Regions from separate parts of the Homo sapiens genome. Here region 2 is linked to region 1. Evidence: fine-mapped expression QTL. A gene starts in region 1. The other region holds a variant in brackets. All regions are shown on one strand. Distances are from middle to middle.

Region 1 (5,378 bases):
ACAGAAAGTATACATCAATCTCAATTTTTTTTAAAAAGGCAGATGGTTTTACAGTTGTTTTATCAAAACTCAAAGAACAGGAAAGCCCACATTATTTCAGCAAAGTCAGACCTTTTAAACAGATGATAGCTGCCCAAGTCATTTTTATGAAACTTCTTTATATCAAAACCTAAGTCTAAAAAGAAAAGTGTTGACCTTGATACGGGCTGTGTTAGGCAGAGATTTCAATGAAGTCCTCTCTGAAGAGGTGACATTTGATCTGAGACCTGAAGCACCAGAAAGAGGCAGCCAAGCCAGGAAGAGGCAGGAATGGGAAGGTCTAGGGAAAGACTGGTCCTGGCAGGCGGAACTGCAGTGGCAAAGGCCCAGCGGTGATCAGGAGCTTGGCATTTGCAAAAATAGTGTGTGTGACTGGACAGCGTGAGCAAGTGGGCAGAGGAGGAGATCGTGATAGGGTGTGCACTGGTCAGGCCACCTAGGTCCTGGAGCCCACAGTGAGAAGCATGGGCTTGACTCTGAGGGCAAAGGAGAGCCACGGAGAGTTTGGGTAAGGGGGAAAATTGGCATTTAATTTTATAGCTTTTTGAAGTTTGTTTTGTTTTCTTAGAAACAAGGTCTCAGTCTGTTACCCAAACTGGAGTGCAGCTCAAAATATTTTCCAATTTATCTTGTGATTTTTTTTGATCCAATGATTTAGAGGTGGGTTGTTAAATTTTCACATATTTTCAGATGTCCAATATTTCTTACTGTTGTTAGTTTCTAATTCTGTTTCAGTCAGATAACTTATTTGTTTTCCCTGTCTCTCCTGTCTTCTGATCCTGTTTTTCCATTGACTACCATTTTTAAAATCAACTTATTTCAGTGTGTCATTTACAATCCTATTTTAATTTTTTGCTCTTTCTCTGAAGTGGTTGTTCCAGGGATTATAATGTGCTTTTCCATTTTTCCAACGAATGAAGAACAAAGTGATCGACTTCTTGCCTCTGCCGGGGCTCTGAAGCGCTGCCCCGAGGCGGTGGATGGAGGGTGTCAGGCGTGACATCAAGAGCTCTGCAGCCAGGGCCTGGGACAACCTCCCGCTCCACCTCCCCGGAGCCTCGCAGCCAGCATCCCCAGCGGCCCGTGCGCCCCGGCCAGGCGGGACCTCAGCGCTGTGGCGGCCGCAGACCTCACCTGGGCAGGCCCCGGGCTGCATGCGGACCGCCGGGCGCCCAGGACCCTAGAGGCAACCAGCGGGCTGGATCCGCACAGCGGCCATGGGGAATGGATGGTGTACAGGGGACAAAGCTACACACGTCTTTCATTTTGGAGGGGGGAAAAAAGAAAAAACGGAAATGAAAGATAGAAAATGTGTGGGCTCTCCGTCCTTTCCTTTGCTCCTGAGCGCTCTCTGGGGTGGGGGGCTCAGCGAGCTTCAAGAGGTGGCCGAGATTCCCCCACCTCGCCCCCAGATCCCCGGGAGAGGTCAGCACGGCCCCTCCCGTGGGTGTCACAGAGACCGATGCGGGTCCCGCTCCCCGGGAAGGAGTGGGTCTGGGTCCAGTCCACAGGATCCCCTCGCGGATGCTGACGCAGAATGGAGTTGAGGTGGGGGCAGCGCTGGACCCCAGGGTCCCTCCCTGCCTCCTGGGGAGCCCGGTGACCCAGGCAGCCCTGGTGAGGCCGCAGGAGTCTGGGCCCTAGCGACGCCCCCGGGCTCCCACAGGACGAATGTAGACGGTGAGGCCAAGGACGCCCTGCTGCCCTCGGGACTGTCCCTCCAGCCCCCAGCTTTCCGTGGCTATTGGGCCCCCTCTGCAGAGGGGCAGGGGAGCCCACCCTGGATCCTGAGGCGCCGAGCTTGAGGGACCCCAGAGCTCCAGCCAGGCCGCTTTCTTTGAGGATGGTGAAGCTGAGGTCCCGAGGAGGGCAGGGGCAGGTCCCGGGCGCTCCTCAGGCAAAGGGAGCCGATTTAGGGGCTGGGGTCACAGGAGGGGCTTCTGCGACCTCTAGGGCCCTAGAGCCCGGGAGGATGACAGACTGGGGGCCTTTCTTCCACCCCTGGGGCTGGGCAGACGCTCAGCCTGTGCAACCCGAAGCTGCTTCTGCCCAGTCCCAGCCGCGGCCCCTTTAAGAGGGGGTGGTGCTTCAGCCTGGCGCCAGGGACGCTGCCAGCATGCAGGCCCCGAGGGAAGCCGAGACTGCGCTTCGTGCGAGGCCCGGGCAGCATCGGCGGCGTGGTCAGAGCGAGTCTCGGAGAAGATGTGGTGGCTTCCGTTTGTTGGTGGAGGAGGTGGCAGGCCTCGGCGGTAAGTGGAGGGGGATGAACCCCACCTGGAACCCTCTGGGTCTCCCTACTCCTTCCCGGCCGCTCCCTGCTTTCGGGCCCTGACTTCTAAGTGGGCATCTGGGCCCGAGTCGTCAGCGTTGGGGCGGTTGTGGGATCCTGGCCTCTGCAGCGTCCACACCCCCGCCGGGAAGGCTATGCCCCGGTCCGACCCACGTCCAGCCTATAGGAGCGCCCTGGCCCAGAGCCGGCGGTGAAGCGCTGGACTGGGTCCCTCCGAGCCCCACGGGCCTCTGAGCTGGGGTCTAGGGTTATTTTTTATGCCTCAGGACCTTTAGAAAGAGACCTCGCTAGAGCAGGGGACATCTGTAGTTTCAATTCTTTGAGGAGTTTCCAGCTATTTAACTGTTTTCCATGGTGTGTACCCTAATTTTCATTTCCACCTACAGTGTATGAGTTCCCGTTTCTCCAAAACCAAACCCCCATTCCAATTTTTTTTGTTTTTGTTATTTCGAGACGGAGTCTCGCTCTGTCTCCAAGGCTGGAGGGCAGTGGCGCCATCTCGGCTCACTGCAACCTCCACCTCCCGGTTTCAAGCAATTCTCCTGTCTCAGCCTCCTGTGTAGCTGGGACTACAGGCGCCCGCCACCACGCCCGGCTAATTTTTGTATTTTTATGTTTAGTAGAGACGGGGTTTCACGATATTTGTCAGGCTGGTCTGAAACTCGTGACCTCAGGTGATCCACCCGCCTTGGCTTCCCAAAGTGCTGGGATTACAGACGTGAGCCACGGCTCCCAGACCCTCCTATTTTTAAAAAATTTTTCTAGGAATATTCAATAAGTGTGAGACTATCTGCGTGTGGTTTTGAATTACAGTATTCTAATGAATAGTTAATTTCGAGGACCTTATCTCTTATCTGTTGTTCGATTTTATATCTGTGCAGAATTGTCTCTTTAGGTTATTTGCGAAATATTAGATTGGATTCTTTTTCTACTTTGTACTCTTTTTTGTGTACACGTTAGTTGACAACTCCTCGTGAATTACATGATTGCCTGAAATTTTTGCATAATCTATGGGATGCTTTTTTATTTGGAAAGTAGTTTTCTTTGCCATGCAGAAACTTTTCACGTTGATGTAGTCCCATATTTTTTTTTTTTTTGCGTTTTATGCGTGTCATAATGGTCACCCATATTAGAAAATATGCATCAGTAACAAAGCATTTAATTGTCAGTGAGGTTTTTCTTCCAGGGTGTTTGTTTCTTTTCCTCTTTGCAAAGGTTAACAGAGATTCAAGTGACCCAAAATATATGCTCAACCTGTGTTTTACTTAAGTAAACACAGTAATTTTTTAAAAAACATTTTGTGGTTTATGGTATTTTGTTTTGGCCTTCAGTTGATGGGGGGGGCGGTTGATTTTCATACATCGTGTAAAATAAGGGTCCTGTTTCTCGCTTTTGCATCCGGATATCATTTTTCTCAAAGCTATTCATTGATCAGACTCTGCCTTCCACATTGTGGTGTTCTTTATCAAAGTCAGTTGACTGTGTCCATATTTGTGTTGTTTTTGTCCTCCCTGTTTTTGTCCATAGTTCTAGGTATTTCTTTTTATGCAAGTACCATATATCTACTGCATAACTACAACTTGGCAATTTAATTTGATATCAAGGATTGTGGGTTCTCACTTTGATTGTATTTCTCAGGATTCCTTTAGATATTCATTGCTTTTGTGGTTCCCTGTGATTTTTAGCACTATGTATTTATTTCTGTTAATTTTTTTACAACATAAAGGGCCATAATTAGGGGTACATTTTTATACATATAAATTGGGTAATGATCAAATCAGGGTACTTAGGATCTCTATTCCCTCATACAGGTATTATTTTTGTGTAAAGAGAACATTCAAAATTCTCCTTGCTCTTTAGAAAAATGTAATACGGTTAAGTCCAGTCACCAGGCTGAGGAGAACACTCAGATTTATTCTTTTAATGTTAAGATAACTTTGTTTCCATAACCAATCCTTCTCCATTCCCCTTCTGTCTCCCAGACTCTGGTAACCAATATTGTGCTTTCTACTTCTTTAAGATAAACATCTTAAGATTTCACATGAGTGGTATCATGCAGTGTTTGTCTTTCTAGGCCTAGCTCATCACATTTATCATAATGTTTTCCAGGTTCATCTGGGTTGCTCTAAATGACACTGTTTGATTATTCTGATAGCCGAAGAATATTCCCCAGTGTATGTATATGAGAGTTTCTTGATCTCTTTATCTGTGGGTGAACAGGTAGGTTGAATATATAGCCAGTAGTGGGACTGCTAGATGGTATGGTATTTCCTTTTTTTTTTTCTATTGTTTGCAGGACCCCCAACTGTTTTTTATAGTGTTAATACCAATTTACATTTCCACAAACAGTCCCCCTTTCTGGAAATTCATACCAGGAATTTTATTTTTAAATATTTTAATCTTTTTGTGATGTTCATTCTAGTTGGAGTGAGATAAGATCTGAGAGTGGTTTTGATCTACATTTTTCTCATGAGTAGTAATGTTAACCACGTTTTTATAAATGTTGAATCTGTTTTCTGTCTTCTTTGCACAAATATCTACTCAGGTTATTTGCCCAATTTTGGTCTGGTTATTTCTCTGTTGTTTTGTTTTTTTGCCAGCCGTTAGTGTTACTGGCTTGTGCCTTTTCAAAAGTAACCTGTTATCCACTGTATGTTTGCCCAAACTTTTCTTATAAGTTTTAGTATGCCTTTTCATTTTGTTCGTTGTTTCTTTCCTTTTTTGGGCACAAATTCTTCAGTTTGATGCGGTCCCACATGTAATTTCTTGGTTAGTGTGCTATTGTTTACTAATCAAGAAAAAACAAAATCACTGCCAAAGCAGTCCATTGTCAGTGATTTTTCCCTTGTATTTTTGTTACTTTTTGCAAACCGTGAGCATACATCCAAGTTTCCCTAAATATACATACACTCGAGGTTGTGTTTATAAGAGCTTTATGGTTGCAAGTTTTGTGAATTATTTCTGTATTATTTAGTACCACACTTTTTGTATTATTTAGTACACTAAATATATTTTGTATTATTTAGTACACTAAATATATTTTGTATTA
Region 2 (5,378 bases), 27 kb after region 1:
TTTAGAGTCTTGATGGAGTTATCACCACAAGCCCTCTGAGCTACACACATTAGGGATCATGACCATTAAGTACTCAAATTACCATTTGGTTGTTATCCGGGTATCTGTCGTCCTTGTGGCAACCCTCTTGTGAAGCTGGTGTGGACAGCCTCAGTGCTGGAGCTGTGCCTCCCTTCTGAGTGGACCCTTTCTGTGTTAGCAGGTGGGTACAAGCGTGGGGGTCAGCACACTCAGTGGATTTACACACACAGCATTAAAGAGTAAGGCTGCGCTTTGTTTATACATTTTCAATAAATGATGATCTTCATAACATAAAATCAATGATGTAGTACACTAGAATACTGTCCCTAGTATTGAATCTTGTCTCTCAACAAAGGGTTGCTTAAAGTCACATGACAGATTCCATTCAACTGATGACACATGCTGTAGCAGCAGTTAAAGCAGTCATTTGAAAAGGCTTTTACTATAAACTTATGTGTGAGCCTGAAGTGGGGGATAAAAGAGGTGATTAGCTACCCTGTGCCATGTTTCTATTATGTGTGTGGTGGAGGAAAATTACACAGGAAGGTGATGGAGAGAACAGAGCAAAGGATTGGACAGGTCCATTGAACCCATAAGACTATGTTGAGGTTAGTGAATGAGACTGGTCATTTTAGGTCAAATTTTACCCAGAGCTGGTGCAACCACTGCCCATTCTTAGCCAGACCTTATTGCAGGTAGCTCTGATCAATAGTCAAGGAGGCAGTGGGGGTTGCAGACTTAATTCATTAAATCACCAAAGCACCAGCCCACATGGCCACTTTTCCAGTTAATTCACAGTAGCTTGCATATTCAGGTTTGATCATTGGAAGCGAAGTTACTCTTTGCAGACCCATCTTTTGACAATCATTTTGCAGTGTCAGAAGGTCTGAGCAGCCTCGGGAGGCAAGCAGTCCCTGGTCCCTCAGTGTAGTCACTGGAGGAGACAGTCACTGAGAGGCAGCTGGCAGGGTGAAGGGAAAGGGGAGGCAGGCCACAGAGATGACAGCCTTTAAGCTGTCATACTGGGGAAGTCAAGGATCTGAAAGAGGAAGGAGAATTCTTTATCATTAAGGACCTGTCCTTATCTCAGGCATTTCCTCCAGAGCATCACCTTTGTCCACCCACACACCTTGGGCTAGGAGGACTGGGGAAAGACAGTGAAGGGCCTCTTGGGTCTCTGGCACAGGGCGTGATGAAGAGGTGGCAGTTTTTCAGGAAACTCTCTCTCTAGGGAACCAAATACATTTCCCATCTCAGGTCCTTCACTCAGCGGGGTTGAGGTTCTGCTCGTCACTTATCATCTCTGAATGTCAGCACCCTCAAGTGTAAAATCTCAGCCACAGCCCCTCCTCTGCACCCCCTGCAGGGCTGATGTTCTCCATAAACCATAAGGCATCATGCCCACGGAAAAGCTGAACAGGAAAGCATGCTCCACTGCCCCGGAGCCATCCAAGTTCCCCCTCCATATTCCACCACTGCTAAGTGTCCAGCTTATTCCTCCTGGCATGTAGTAAACACTTAGAGAACATTACTGAAGTACCAGTCCTCTCTAAGGTTTTCCTGTATTTAGTGATTTTTTAGCCCCGTACTGTGATACTAAGAAGTAGGGCCTAAATAGGGCCTAAAAAGTATTGCTAAAATTACATTATGACAGTGCAGAGAACTGAGGGCAGAGGGAGGACATGAGATTTCTAGGTCCACATGGCTTAGTGGAATTTGAATCCGGGCCCCCACTCTGCACCAGCCCTGCACTCACAGTCATCCTGCTGTGTTCTCCTCTCCAGGAAGGCACTGCCCACACAGTCTGTCTGATAGAGGTGTTGAGTGCTCACTGAACTCCGTGATCTTCCTGAAACCCAACTTTGATTCAGTGGGCTCTGCTTGGAAGCCTGTAAAGAAAAACATCATAAGTTTAAACTTAGAACAGATTATCACTGTTTTCCCTCTGGTCTTC[A/G]GTCAGCAAGATGTCAACAGCCCTATCTATTGTAAATGCGTTAACCAGCATCTTCTCTGATAGAGAATACAAGAAGATATGCTGTGCACACCAACCAGTGTCGGAGACCTCATGGCTCCCCGGTAAAGAAGAAGATGTACCCACAAGAAGGTACTGTGGAAGTTCATTAATTAAGTTGCTTCAAGAATTGCAATTGCGGGGAGTATTCAGTGTCCCATATGTAAGAGGAAACTATGAAGAGACTAAGCCATATTTTTTAATGTGTCAGGATTCTAATTTGCCTGGTCAGTAAATATTGCTACAACCACAAAAGTAAATATCTACTTAAAAGTCAATTGTGGTTCATGTTTAATGATAGACAATGTTTCAAGCTAATGTCTAGAACTTACCTGGTTGTTAAACATAAGCATAGATCTCCCTGAAAGAGTGGTGCTATATTATTATTTTTCAATTAATATATTTCTTTAGAGAGTTTTAAATTGACATAAAAACTGAGCATATGGCCAGGCGTGGTGGCTCACGCTTATAAACCCAGCACTTTAGGAGGCCAAGGCAGGCGGATCATCTGAGGTCAGGAGTTGGAGACCAGCCTGGCCAACATGGTGAAACCCCATCTCTACTAAAAATACAAAAAAATTAGCCCGGTATGGTGGCAGGCGCCTGTAATCCCAGCTACTCAGGAGGCTGAGGCAGGAGAATCGCTTGAACCCGGGAGGCAGAGGTTGCAGTGAGCCAAGATCATGCCATTGCACTCCAGCCTGGGTGACAAGAGTGAAACTCCATCTCAAAATAAATAAATAAATAAATAAATAAATAAATAAATAAAAATTGAGTATATAATACACGAAGTTCCCATATTATTCTGTCTCCTCATCCTCACTTCCTAATTTCACCTATTAGTAACATCTTACATTACTGTGGTACATTTGCTAGAATAATGAGAAAATATTGATACATTATTATCTAAAGTCTACATTTGCATAATGTTCATTCTTTCTGTTATACATATATATGAATTTTGAAATATTTAAAACATTATGTTCACCCTTATGGTCTCATAAAGAAAATGTTCACTTCCCTAAAAATCCTCTCTTCTCATTAATCTCTGTCCTCTTTCTCCAGAAACCATGGCAACTATTAACATTTTTACTATCGCTTCAACTTTGCCTTTTCCAGAATGTCGTATAGTTGGAATCATATATTATGTAGTTTTTTCAGATGAATTTATTGCACTAAATTGATGTACGCTTTAGCTGCTTTCATGTCTTTTTTATGCCTTAATGGCAAAAAATGGCACATTAAATCACCAAATAATATTGCATTAAATGAATTTTTGTCTTTTTATTCGCCTGTTGAAGAATTCGGTAGATTTCATGAGAGAAACCATCTGGGCCTGGTGCTTTCTTTTTCGGAATGCTCTTAATGTGAATTCAACTTATTTAATAGACATAAGTTTATTCACATTAGGATTCTAGCGTGACCTTGGGAAGATTGCCTTTCAAGGAATTGATAAATTTCACTGAGGTTATCAAACTGCGGTCATAGAACTGTTCATAATATTCCTTTTAATGCCTAACAGTTCAGTAGAGATGGCTCCTCTTTTATTTCTGAAATTGGTCATTTGTGTTATCTTCTTTTTCTTGGTTAGCCTGCATATCAATTCATTCATTGTAATGAGCATATCAAAGAACCAGCTTTTGGTTTTATTGATTTTCTGATGATTTCAGTGTTTTAATTTTATTGATTTCTGTGATGTTGTTTATTACTTTTACTTGCTTTCCATTGCATTCCTCTATTTTCTACAGTTCCCTAATTGAAACATGATATTACTGATTTTAGATCTTGTGATTTTTAGTATATTACATCCAATGCTATAGATTTCCCTCTAAGGACTGCTTTTGCTACATCCAGAAATCTTGCCAAGTCACATTTTCTTTTAATGTAGTTAAAAGTATTTTTAATTTTCTATTGAGACTTCTTCTTTAACCCATGAGTTATTTAAAACTGCATTGCTAATTTGCAAATATTTGGGGATTTTGTGGCTCTTTTACAGTTGTTGATTTTTTGTTGTCAGGTATGTGTTGCAAAAGCAGTCATCTACCTCATCTTGCCACCACCCAAGATGGCCCAGGATGTGGGCTCTCCCTGAGTGAATCTTTGGCAATCTGCCAACCTGATGTGGTCGGCCTCCTTCTTTAGTCTGAGCTTGTCTTCTGCTTAGAAAGGGCCATTCTCAGTTCTGGCAGGGAGTTTTCCCAACATTGAGAAGGTGGCATTCTTACTCCCCAGTGCAGCCTGCACCTCTGACCGGTGGTCAGCAGACAGGACAGAGGTCCTCATTAGACAGAGTTCAGCGGGGTCTCTGACCAAAGGGCATCTTCAGAGTCTGCACCTACCCACTGTGACCATGGGCAGGCTCTGAGTCCTAAAGCAGGAGGAACCGTGCGACCATCCTGATTGGAAATTTGTGAGGATCACCATGTTACTCAAGTAAGGTCTTTGGAAAGTGTCGTATTACTACTGTTTGTGAACTTCTTGTTGGTGGCCTGGCTGAGCCACACACTTTATGAAAACCAGGACCCCTCAGCTGGTGTGGGTGTCTATGCAGCCTGAGACCCTCATGTGAACAGCCTCGTGGTAGCTGTCTTTGCCCCTTGCCACCATCAGTGCCTCCTTGTTCCTGGGCACTGCTTTCTCTGATGGTGCTCCATTGTTTTCCTGCACCTCAGTGTCTACAGCTGGATGTCTCTTCTGCAATCTAGGTGAGGGGGCATCAATAACAGTTCTGCTGTGGCACTGCCCTCCTTCTTAGCTTGTCTTGCTCCGTCTTAGGCTCCCTCAAAGATCCCACCCTTCAGGTTCTTCCACAAGTTTCTTATTGAAATCCGAGCAGAAAACTATGACCAATATGACCAATCGTATACCCACTGAAGACATGAATGTAGAATTAAAACAATTCTCCATGGACTCTACCATATAGATCCCTAGAAGTAATTTCTAAAAAAAAAAAAAAATCAAGGAAGATGTAATAGTTTTCCATAAATTAGAATACCCTACATGTACAATTAAATGAAATGGCTAGTATAGTCTTGAAACCAAAACCAGATAAGGTAAATTAAATTCTGTGATATTTTAAAATACTGTAAATTCTGACTAATGTGAGTTAATCTCAAAATATGAAATAGTAGATTAACATTGAAAATGCAATAAATAAAATTAGCTACCTCAAGAGTTTAATGGAAAAAAATGTGATTATTGCAATAGATTCAGGAAATTCGTGAATAACATTCACCCTATATTTGTAGGACAACTATCTGATTAAGTGACCTGTGACAACCATTTGAATTAATGCTGCTTTCACAGCATATCTCTTGGCTTGTTAAAAACCCGACAAGAATTTCCA

What was found.
Region 2: its variant is fine-mapped to the expression of FAM230C in testis (GTEx, PIP above 0.99).

The regions. Positions count from the first base shown.
Region 1 is chr13:18,193,124-18,198,501 of GRCh38, forward strand. It overlaps FAM230C (family with sequence similarity 230 member C), which reads left to right and starts at 2,174. Exons shown (of 8, transcript NR_027278.1): 1 at 2,174-2,288. It also overlaps the pseudogene LOC124903223.
Region 2 is chr13:18,220,457-18,225,834 of GRCh38, forward strand. FAM230C (family with sequence similarity 230 member C) reads left to right here. Exons shown (of 8, transcript NR_027278.1): 4 at 2,039-2,125. Among named protein-coding and RNA genes, the nearest start is that of FAM230C, 28 kb to the left of the region's middle. The variant A/G (reference allele first, on the strand shown) is at 1,976.